Homo sapiens: one gene and its partners. The protein of the gene in region 1 interacts with the protein of each later gene in a pairwise test. Each region holds a gene or a part of one and is shown in the gene's direction. Other genes may lie near its edges. The genes, in order: DDX6, JUP and BEND7.

Region 1 (3,750 bases):
ACAGAAAATTAGCCAGGCATGGTGGCGGGCGCCTGTAATCCCAGCTAGTCAGGAGGCTGAGGCAGGAGAATCTCTTGAACCTGGGAGGCAGAGGTTGCAGTGAGCCGAGGTCATGCCATTGCACTCGAGCCTGGGCGATAAGAGTGAAACTCTGCCTCATATATAAATAACCCACTCTGATTTCCTAGGTAATAAGAGTGAAACTCCGTCAAATACATAAATAAAATACCCACTCTGATTTCCTGGACAACCTGTCTTCCCATCTTTTTTTTATTTTTATTAAGATGGGATCTCACTATGTTGCCCCGGCTGGTTTCAAACTCCTGGGTTCAAATGATCCTCCCACTTTGGCTTCCCAGAGTGCTGGGATTATAGGTGTGAGCCACCACGCCCTGCCTCTATCATCTTTTGGTGACTATTGGGCTCTAGTTAGAAATGCATGAAACAAGGCTCAGCTTTAAGCAAGGTAGGTTGTTTCAGTATTTCCTAAAGAAAATCTGATTTGACAAAGGATAGTTTCCAAGTTATAGGTGAACATCTTACCTATTTAAGTAACCTAATGTTACTTAAATTTTTTTTCTCTTTCTTTTTTAAATAGAGACGAGGATTTACCATGTTGGCCAGGCTGGTCTCAAACTCCTGACCTCAGGTGATCCGCCCACCTCAGCCTCCCAGAGTGCTGAGATTACTGGCAGGAGCCACCTCACCCAACCAATTGTTACTTAAATAATTTTTAAATTACTCTGTACTCTTTTTTTCCTTAAGTTAAACATCAAACACAAACTCTTGGACAAGCATGAAACTAGCCAATGTTTGCTAGTACTTTGGCAGAGTATTCAGTTTGTGTAAGGTTAATTTTTTTCCCCCGGATTTGTTACGAGTGAGGGCTGCCTGCTATCAGAACATTCACATTCATTCAGGCCCCCAATCTATCTCAGGGTTGCCTACCAGAAATTATTTAATCCTATAACCAGTAGATTCTATAGTAGGCACAGGGTTAGTAGAAACTACTAGAAAAGAGCATTTGGGATGAGGATTGTGAAAACCTATGTATCCTAGTTTGTGTTGCTTTCAGAATGTTAATTTTGTATTCTCTTCTTCTGTAGGCTTTGACAAATTACAAAAGGCTCGTTTGGATCTGTGACACATCGTTTTGGGGGGAATGCTCCTCTCTTTGTGGGTTTTTCATCTTTTATTTTGGAACTATGAAGACTTAAAAGAGCTCAGACATTTTCTTTTTTTAACTGGTGAAGAGAAAAAGGCTGAAAAGAAGGAATATACCTTTTTTGTTCCACTTGTTTGCACTGTGTGCTGACTGAACATTAGTTGCACTAACTGCTGGTTTTTAAAAAATGTTTTCTGGGGAAAGGGGACAAGGAAGGAAAAGAAAGAAGAGAAGGGGAGAAACCCTAAAAAGAGAAGAATCTTAATGAACACACAAGCTTGTCAATGATTTCAAAATTCTCCAACAGCTGACTCTCGTGCATTTCAACTTCTCCCTGATTCCTCATCCGTTTTTTAAGCCTGAAGAGCTTATTACTTATTTGTGCGAAGTGCCTTATGCTATGAGACCATTCAGAATATCATCTTTTAGACACAGCCCGAGGAATCAACAATAGTAACTCTTTCTTTCCGTTTTTTTTTCTTTTTCTTTTAAAAAATGTCTTCTTATTTTGGTTTCAGGTTGAAGTCTCTTCCCTTTCTACCCAGTACTCGAGCCCAGGGCTAGAAGTTGAAACTCACTAGTAATGTTAAACACCATTTTTTTTTTCTTTTTGGGGAGGAGTTGATATGCAACTGCAGTTCATCCGCACTGTAAATACATGTATTTAAAAAAACAATCCCAAGTAAAAATTTCTTCTGGGCTGAGTAGATAAAAAACATCATCGCTCCCAAAGGAAAGAGCAGTCTATCATTGCAGGAGCCATATGACAAGCCTTTGTGCTCTATAGCAGACACTAAAGACTGGGTTACATATGCCTCCAGTAGTAGTATGGCACTTGATGTGTAGACATGTCAGAGCCTTGGCCCTCTTTCCTCTGTGGCAAAGCGTGTCCCATAGAAAATTGGGTGTGTATACTTGTATAACTTTGTAAATAAGTTTTTTTTCTGGGTTCATATATATATATATATATACATATATATATATTTTTTTTTGGATGAAGGTTGCTGGGATTAAGGGGATTAGAGTGATTATGGGAGCAGCTAAAGATGAGAGGGGCTCAGTTTTACGCAACACTAAATTCTAGAAAGTACTTTGGCCTCGTGCTGTAGAGAGCAGATTTCTATGGTACCCTGTGTTAGTAAAGGGGCCCAGAAATCTGGGATGTACTGTTTGCTGCCACACTGTCTCATCTAGTACCTTTGGAGTAGGTTTACCAGAGAGAGCAAGGAAGCTTCAAAACATTGATAATTCAACATTTATTTTGAGAAGCTCTGATTTTGCTTCTTCCCCCTTTCTAAAAGTTTGAGGAATATTTCAAGCTCTGCAACAGGGGGCAAAGATTAATCTACCTTGCAGTGTAGGAATTCTATTGAGTGGCAGTGTCATTGAGCAGTATATATATAAAGCACAGATTTGCATTTCAGAATATTAGCCAGTACCAGCTTTGGTAATGTTAGCAGTTCTGGAGCTTAATTTTCTGTGGATCATTTCCTGTAGTGTGTAAATGTGTTGCCCTCTGCCCGCTTTGATACATAAACTTTTGCAGGAATGGGCAACCTGAGAGCTGTTAACTTTCATGCTACAGAAAGCTGCTTGCCATTCTCTTGCATTGTGACAAGAATTGTTACCTGTCATTTTGCACTGTAAATTGCTGGCAGATGCTTTACAGTCAATAGTGTTGCTTTAAATTGTGCCCCTCCCAACATGCTTGATGTTTGGCCTGATCTCCAGGCAAAAGGAGTGAGATGAATCAAAACCAGTGAACTTTTTTTTTTAATGTTTTTAATTCCCTTTTAACCCAGTGTACTAGGTCAATCAGGAGGCATCTGGAAAGGGGGGGAAAAAAGCAAAAAACAAAATTAAAAAAAATTGATTTCCATATTTTATTTTTCAAAACCCTAAAATATTACAAAATAAGTCCCGCATATACTTTAATGTTTTAACTCTTTTGGACAAAGGAATCAATTACTTGAAGTTGCTTTTTTGACTCTGCCTACTTCTGAGCAAACTATTTGCGACTCACCCACAATTCCTTGGAGATCAAAATCCTACAGATGCCTCCTGATGGGACATAGCCCTAACTCCTTAACAACTGTAGCAAGAACTGCACGGTACAAACCCAAAAAAGAACAAGCTCATCTATTTGGAACCCAAGCCTCATATTTTCTGTCCAGTCAATGTTGGTTACTAAATAGAAAACCTAATTAAGGAAGTAACTTTTTTCCAGGGAGGGGTGGGAGAGGGAATTTAAAAGGTGTCAACTTTTGACCAAAAAAATTGTGCCCTTGTACCGATGCAGCTCTCTTTCTCCCCCACCTCTTGCGAGATAAGAGGGATCATTCATGTAGAAGAAAAGAGTATAAATGCAATTCTGTATCTCGCTAGAGAACGTGTGGGTGACTAAACAAAAAGTGCAGTCTCCTTCACCAACTTTAGACTGCGTGGTGCCACATGCCTGTGGGTCCCTCTTAAAGCACAGACTTAAAATGGAAAGTATTACTGAAGTATAGCCTCTAATGAGGAGTGGCACTTAAACTATCTGGGACACCACTACTGGACACGGTCTTGTAGAGGCAGCTGTCCAG
Region 2 (3,750 bases), on another chromosome or scaffold:
GCCTCAGCCTCCTGAGTAGCCAGGATTACAGGCGTGTGCCACCACCCCCGGCTGATTTTTGTATTTTTAGTAGAGACAGGGTTTCACCATGTTGCGCAGGCTGGTCTTGATCTCCTGACCTCGTGATTCGCCCGCCCCGGCCTCCCAAAGTGCTGGGATTACAGGCGTGAGCCACCTCACCTGGCCCAAACCAAGCACTTTCATTAACTATTTTTACTTAATCCTTATGGCTGGCCAGGCTGGATGGCTCAGACCTGCAATCCCAGCACGTTAGGAGGCCCAGAAGGGTGGACTGCTTGATTGAGCCCAGGAGTTCCAGACCAGCCTGGGCAACATGGAGAAACCCTGTCTCTACAAAAAAATAGAAAAATTAGCCGGGCGTGGTGGTGCATGCCTGTGGTCCCAGCTACTGGGAATGTTGAGGTGGGAGGATTACCTGAGCCCAGGGAAGTCAAGGCTGCAGTGAGCTGTGTCACTGTATTCCAGCCTGGGCAACAGAGTGAGTCCCTGACTCAAAAAAAAAAAAAAAACAAAAAAAACGCGTATCATTATTCGCATTCTACAGAGGAGGAAATTGAAACTCAAGGAACTTAAGTAATTTCCCCAATGTTGTACAGCGAGACCCAAGCAGCACCAAGACTGACGTTTGGGTCCTCTGATTCCAAGCCCAGAACCCATCCTGCTGTATTGCCCCATGCAGCTCTGGAAAGGATTTTTTTTTTTTTTTTGAGATGGAGTCACGCTCTGCCACCCAGGCTGGAGTGCAGTGGCGCGATCTCGGCTCACTGTAACGTCTACCTCCTGGGTTCAAGCGATTCTCCTGTCTCAGCCTCCCGAGTAGCTGGGATTACAGGCATGCACCACCACACTAGGCTAATTTTTGTATTTTTAGTAGAGATGGGGTTTCACCATGTTGGTCAGGATGGTCTCGAACTCCTGACCTTCAGGAGATCCGCCCGCCTCAGCCTCCCAAAGTGCTGGGATTACAGGTGTGAGCGGAAAGGATTTTTCTGCACCCCCTTTTGAGAGCCTCTGCCTGACTGGGGAGAAGAGAATTCAGAAGGGCCCATGAAGGCATGTGTGAGTGGTGAATGTAGGGCAGGTTTTGTAGGTGGGGGTGATACCTGTCCTGGCCACCAGCCCACTTAAATCTCCCCAGTGGCTTGATTTTTAGTTTCCGGTGGAAGCGGCTTCTCCCCAAGGCCAGGGCTGTGGTGAGTGTTGGGGGGAGGTTGAGAGGGAAAGAGGAGGCAGGGGTCAAAGCTGTGCTGCCTCCTAGCTTGGGTTAGGTAGAACCATGGCTGTTCTGGGCTTGTTCATGTGTAGGAAGTGGGAGTTGCCTGCTTTGCTGGGGGCTGGGGCTATGCCAAGATAAAGGGGTGCTGCCCTGTGGGGATTGGCGAGAAACGAGAGTCCGATTTAGGCCTGGGCTAATGTCCTGCTGGAGTTGACGAGGCAGTGCTGCCAGGCTGCTCTTGATGGGGAACTGGCTGTCCTCTGCTCTGAAGCCCAAGAGACCTGAGATAGGCAGCTGCTGGGAGGGCTTTTCTGGTGATGGAGGTGGGGGTCATGTGTGCTGCCTGTCAGCCAGAGCCTTGGCCCTCTAGGGAGGAGCTGGTGTCAGATTGTTCTCCAGACCTGCCTGGTTCTGGTGTCTCTGCCAACTGGACATCTGACACCAGAATGGGCCTGGATTTGGGGTCTGGGAAATGGGTTCTCTTTATGTGATGGTGCAGCCGGAGTACTGAACCTGTCACTACCGCGCTTCTGGATTCCCTGAGGGCAGGCGGGGACCCCAGGCAACGGGATTATTGATCGTGGAGAAGGCTAATGGGACTTGAGACAGAGAAGAAAACAGAATGAACCCCATCCCACTGACTACTACAAAGAGGGCATGAGGTTGCAGTTTTTCCATCTCCCCCGAGGACTTGAGAGCTGCAGGCCCGATGCACTTACTGAAGGGACGCAGTCTAGACAGGAGGAGGGGCTTTCTGCCTGCTAAAGATGAAATCTTGAGTTGAGAAATAAGAGGGAGAGGTGGAGACTCAGCATTGACTCTTCTCTGATGAGGGCCATCCTGTGCGGCAGGGAGGCCAGACAGGAATTGCTGCCCTTTGGGGAGACTCCTCATTTGTATCTTTTGGGAGAAGAGCGACCTGGCAGTGAGAGGGAAAGGCATCTGTGAGCTGGTCCTGTGACCCCTGTGAAGAGGAAAAGCAAGCAGTGTGGCTGGGCAGGTCACCAGGGCTTGTGTTCCTGCAAGTGACACTGAGCGGCCTCTCCTGGGACATGGTTGAGTCTGGGGACATGGAATATCTTATTGTGAAGCGACTTCCTCTGCCAGGCCTGAAGGGCAAGCTCATGGACCACTCTCCTTTGCTCAGCCTCCTGGCATCTTGGCCTTTGGGGCCAGCAGAGCAGGAAGCTCAGCTTTCTTTTTCTCTTTCTTTCTTTCTTTTTTTTTTTTTGAGATGGAGTCTCTCACTCTGTCACCCAGACTGGAGTGTAGTGGCACAATCTTGGCTCACTGCAACCTCCATCTCCCGGGTTCAGGTGATTCTCCTGTCTCAGCCTCCCGCGTAGCTGGGACTACAAGCGCCTGCCAGTACGCCCAGCTAATTTTTTTTTTTTTTTTTTTTTGAGACGGAGTCTCACTCACTCTGTCGCCCAGGCTGGAGTGCAGTGGCACGATCTCCGCTCGCTGCAAGCTCCGCCCCCTGGGTTCACACCATTCTCCTGCCTTAGCCTCCCGAGTAGCTGGGACTACAGGCGCCCGCCACCACGCCTGGCTAATTTTTTTGTGTTTTTAGTAGAGACGGGGTTTCACTGTGTTTGCCAGGATGGTCTCGATCTCCTGACCTCATGATCCACCCGCCTCGGCCTCCCAAAGTGCTGGGATTACAGGCGTGAGCCACTGTGCCCGGCCTAATTTTTGTATTTTTAGTAGAGACGGGGTTTCACCATATTGGTCAGGCTGGTCTTGAACTCCTGACCTCAGGTGATCCACTCACCTTGGCCTCCCGACATGCTGGGATTATAAGCGTGAGCCACCGCTTTTGGCACTCAGCTTTCTTTCCTCCTCCCTTCTCCTCTTCTCTTTTCTTTCTTTTTTTTTTTTGGTTTGTTTTTTGAGATGGAGTCCTGCTCTGTCGCCCAGGCTGGAGTGCAGTAGTGCAGTCTTGGCTCACTGCAACCTCTGCCTCCTAGGTTCAAGCAATTCTCCTGCCTCATCCTCCTAAGTAGCTGGGACTACAGGCATGCGCCACCATGCCCAGCTAATTTTTGTATTTTTAGTAGAGATGGGGGTGTCACTATGTTGGCCAGGCTGGTCTTGAATTCCTGACCTCAAGTGATCCACCCACCTCAGCCTCCCAAAGTGCTGGGATTACAGGCGTGAGCCACTGCGCCCGGCCTTCTTTCCTTTTTTTGAGGTAGGGACTCGCTCTGTCCCTTAGGCTAGAGTGCAGTGGCGTGATCACAGCTCACTGCATCCTTGAATTCCTGGGTTCAAGCAATCCTCCCGCCCAGCCTCCCAAGTAGCTGGGTCCACAGGTGTGCACCACCATGCCCAGCTAATTTTTAAAGTTTTGTGTAGAGACAGGGTCTTGCTATGTTGCCCAGGCTGGTCTTGGACTCCTGAGCTCAAGCATTTGTCCCATCTCAGCCTCCCAAAGTGCTGGGATTATGGGCATGAGCCACCATGCCCAGCTGAAGCTCAGCTTTCTGTGTCTTTCCCTACCATGGAGACAG
Region 3 (3,750 bases), on another chromosome or scaffold:
GCAAAACATCGTGACCATTTGCAATTAGGGGGAAAAAAGGAAATTGTTCAGGAACGGGAAATGTCTGCCATTGCTTAATGTATGACATTCTTTTCAAGACCTTTTATTTTACAGATTGCCAATATATCCCTTATTAACATTGCTAAAAGTTGTAATTTCAGACATAAATGTTTATTAGTGTCTACACACAGTGCTAATTATCACTCACTCACAGAGCCAGATGCTGACTGTGCAGTTTTGTGGCTCTGCGCTCACCCCATTTACATTGCATATTCGTTGGCATGCTTCACTGGCAATAGTTTGTGTAATTGGGGTATTACATCTTTGACATCTGGATAACAGAAATTCAATTTCCAGGAAGCTGCTATTTGTTTGGTTTTGCTTCTGCCTTGGGTGGGATAGAGGATTAATGTGCTGTCTTATAATGTCCCTTCACCTCTGTGGCCCAGTTGCTAATCCTGCCATGACAAAATTAAATTAAATCTACAGTCAAAAAGCATAAGGAAAATAAAAGTGTGACTGTCTGCCTAACCAGCTCTTGATAGTGCTAGTTATCATCAAGCAGCTCCTCATTTTCCTGACTTTGTGCTCCTTTCACACCAGCATTTTGGGACAGGGGGAACAGCATGCTTTCCTCTTACCATCCTTGTTCCCAGCTCACGTCAGGGATGAGCAGAGCTAAAACAGCATTTCTGAGACTTTCCAGCAAGTGTAGCTGCATGATGGGTGGGTAGGTAGCCACAAACATTGCCACCTTTTCCATGTGCAGTGTTGGTGCAAATACTGTACAGGAAAGACTTTGGATGTGCAGTTTTTTATTTGCACACAATCAGCCAAAAATGAAACCACGTAAGATTTTGCCTCTAAGAGTGAAGTACCCATAAGGTCAGGGTGGAGAGTAGATGGTGGCGTTGGGCCTCAACCTTGTCCATCTTGGACCTCTGCAATCCCAGGTAGCAGGGTGAGGGCACAGCACTGCACAGCAAGGAAGCAGAACATGAGAGAGGTCAGAGCGAGAACGATTACAAGCAAAGCCACAATTACCCCATCAAGGGGGACTTCAGGTAGCAGGACTGCTGCTCAGACCCGGTGTGGGTCAGCCTTCAAACGAAGCTCTCGCCAGGATCTCTCTGGTTTTGCTTTGAGGGATAGAAAGGGTGGGTCGGGATGCATTGGGAAGAAGTCAAATATTAATATATACTTTAAGAGGAAAAATAGGAGGGAAATGTCAGCATTTCTTACATGAGCGATCATTGATAGCACATAGATCTTTCTGCTGAGGGAAAGAATATCACTGGGGCCAGCACTGCTCCCAGTACCTGTTTACTGTTAAGAGAGCTAGGAGCCAAAAGGTTAATAATCAAGTGAAATGCTGTGGCCCAGAAAGAGAATATTCTTGGATTCTAGTCTTTCCAGTCCCCTAAACTTGGTCAGTTGGAATTCTTTTTTTTTTTTTTTTTTTTTTGAGACGGAGGTTCACTCTTTTTATCCAGGCTGGAGTGCAATGGCATGATCTCGGCTCACTGCAACCCCTGCCTCCCAGGTTCAGGCGATTCTCCTGCCTCAGCCTCCTGAGTAGCTGGGATTACAAGCACCTGCCACCACGCTTGGCTAATTTTTTGTATTTTTAGTAGAGACAGAGTTTTACCATGTTGGCCAGGCTGGTCTCAAACTCCTGACCTCAGGTGATCCACCTGCCTCAGCCTCCCAAAGTGCTGGGATTACAGGCGTGAGCCACCGTGCCTGGTTGGTCAGCTGGAATTTTGTATTATCAAAGTACCACTCTATATAGCCATTCGAAATAACGAATTTACCCTTTAGTAGAAAATTTACGTTCACCATACAAAGGGAACATCATGTCCTTGATTTAGTTCTCCAGCAAGGCAGGCTTTCCCGCACTTTCTGTTGTGTACTACTAGAAAAGTGGTAAGGTCACTACGAAGGAAGTGAATTGTAAGGATAAGAGAGGGGAAGCTGAAGAGCAACAGGATGCTAGTGCCCAGGATTCAGTAAGCTGGAAACTCCCAGAGATGATAGACGTTGTTGCTTTTCTTCTTCCTAGTCCAAGTTGAGGAAGATGCAAGAATTCCAATGAAGGACCAGGCTTGAGATAGATACGCTTTCAAAGTGGTTGCTCCAGAAGGCCTTCAACATCAAGAGACAAAAGATTGAACAGCCTGGGAGTGTGCTGTGGGTTATTTTCAATCTTTTGCTCATTCTTGGGTCATCATGTAGTTGGTTCCCAAATAACATTTTTATTTTGTGATCTCTAGGTCAGTTAAGAAAAAATAACAGAAATTGTCACAGCAACATGATTTCTGGAGCAATTGAGAATAGTTACTGATGGCATCTGAGAGTAGGAATTTTTTGTTGACAGTGTTATAGTTTATAGTTTTATAGTTACACTTTTCAAAACATAAAGATTTCAATTATGTTTATTTTATAAATTGCTAAAGCCTGTCCATAAAGATGTAGAATTATATGGGAAGCTTATGACATCCAAGGGGGTTTGGTACCAAAATACTAGAACTCTTTCCCCTATAACAAAGTACTGACACACTGTCCCAGGGATGGTCTATAGGATTTTCTACATTCAAACATATGTGTTCCCTTTAATAGTATCTGCATCTATAAGATCAAAGTTTATGTTCTAGGTGAAAAAGAGTCTTCTAGAATGTGGCAGAGGTTCCCACATCAAGTCTACCTCTCTGGAACATGTTTAGGCTGTTAACGAACGTAGTGTATCTCACATGGTAGGGTAGCTCAGTAGTGTAAATGGCTTGGCCTCGTGCTTTAGGAATTACTCACATATTTTTAATTGGATAATAGGGTCAGAAGACGTTACTTTACCCTGTGGACATTGACTTTCTCAAGCTGGCTGTGATGGGACTACAGTGAAGATTTAAGCACTGTTTGAAAGGAAACAGTTCTCTTAAATCAGTTCAGCCAGTGTCTTTATAGAAGATACTCTGAACTCAGCACTTTTCTGGAATGGGAGTGGGGTCAGAGATAGTCACAGAAATGGATAGGACAGGGACCTTGTTCTCAGGGATTCAGATCCAGCTGGGGAGGAGACAGGACAAATTCAGGAAACGGAGCAGTATTCAGCAATCGTAAGAGCTACAGTTGTTTGAGCACTTAACTGTGTGCAAGGCAGCACACTGAGCACTTTACATGAAAGACCTGATTTGCTCTTTGCAGCATGTCTGTATGAGTTACCGTCATCCCCATTTTGTAGATGAGCCTAGAGATGTCGAGGTGACCTGCCCAAGGTCTCTCAAGTAGGAAGTGCCACAGGTAGGGTTCCAGTGCAGGTCTGTCTGAGCTTTGAACACTCCACTTAACCGCCTGTCTGTGAACGGTAATTAAATGACAAATGTGAATGATCAGGGCAACAGCAAATGCAGAGTTGGAAGGGGTAGAGGGGAGGGCTCTGCAAAGCAGAGATGTTGAACTACAGGAAAGATTCGCTCCTGTATTTCTCCTCCCTGGAGAAGATTCCAGGTGGGAAGGGTGAGGGAGCCGCCAATAAGCATCATTATAGCTCGACCATGAGTGTTGCACTTATGGTTTAGAAAGTGCTTTCACATCTGTCTTCTCGGGATTTTTACCATATACCTGTGGGGTAGTCAGGGCAGATATAATGATTCCTATAATGATGGGAACCGAAGCTCAGTTACCTGACCTCACGAATAGCAGAGGCCGGAGTAAACCCAGGCCTCCTCTCAAAAGATCTTTCCCCTCTGCCCT

The links.
Region 2: the proteins of DDX6 (region 1) and JUP interact in binary tests that used the Homo sapiens proteins (3 or more experiments, as listed by UniProt).
Region 3: the proteins of DDX6 (region 1) and BEND7 interact in binary tests that used the Homo sapiens proteins (3 or more experiments, as listed by UniProt).

Annotation. Positions count from the first base shown.
Region 1 is NC_000011.10:118,749,454-118,753,203, reverse strand, and holds part of DDX6 (probable ATP-dependent RNA helicase DDX6), read left to right. Parts: intron 1-1,106; 3' UTR 1,107-3,750.
Region 2 is NC_000017.11:41,780,075-41,783,824, reverse strand, and holds part of JUP (junction plakoglobin), read left to right. Parts: intron 1-3,750. UniProt on the Homo sapiens protein: Common junctional plaque protein. The membrane-associated plaques are architectural elements in an important strategic position to influence the arrangement and function of both the cytoskeleton and the cells within the tissue.
Region 3 is NC_000010.11:13,522,360-13,526,109, reverse strand, and holds part of BEND7 (BEN domain-containing protein 7), read left to right. Parts: intron 1-3,750.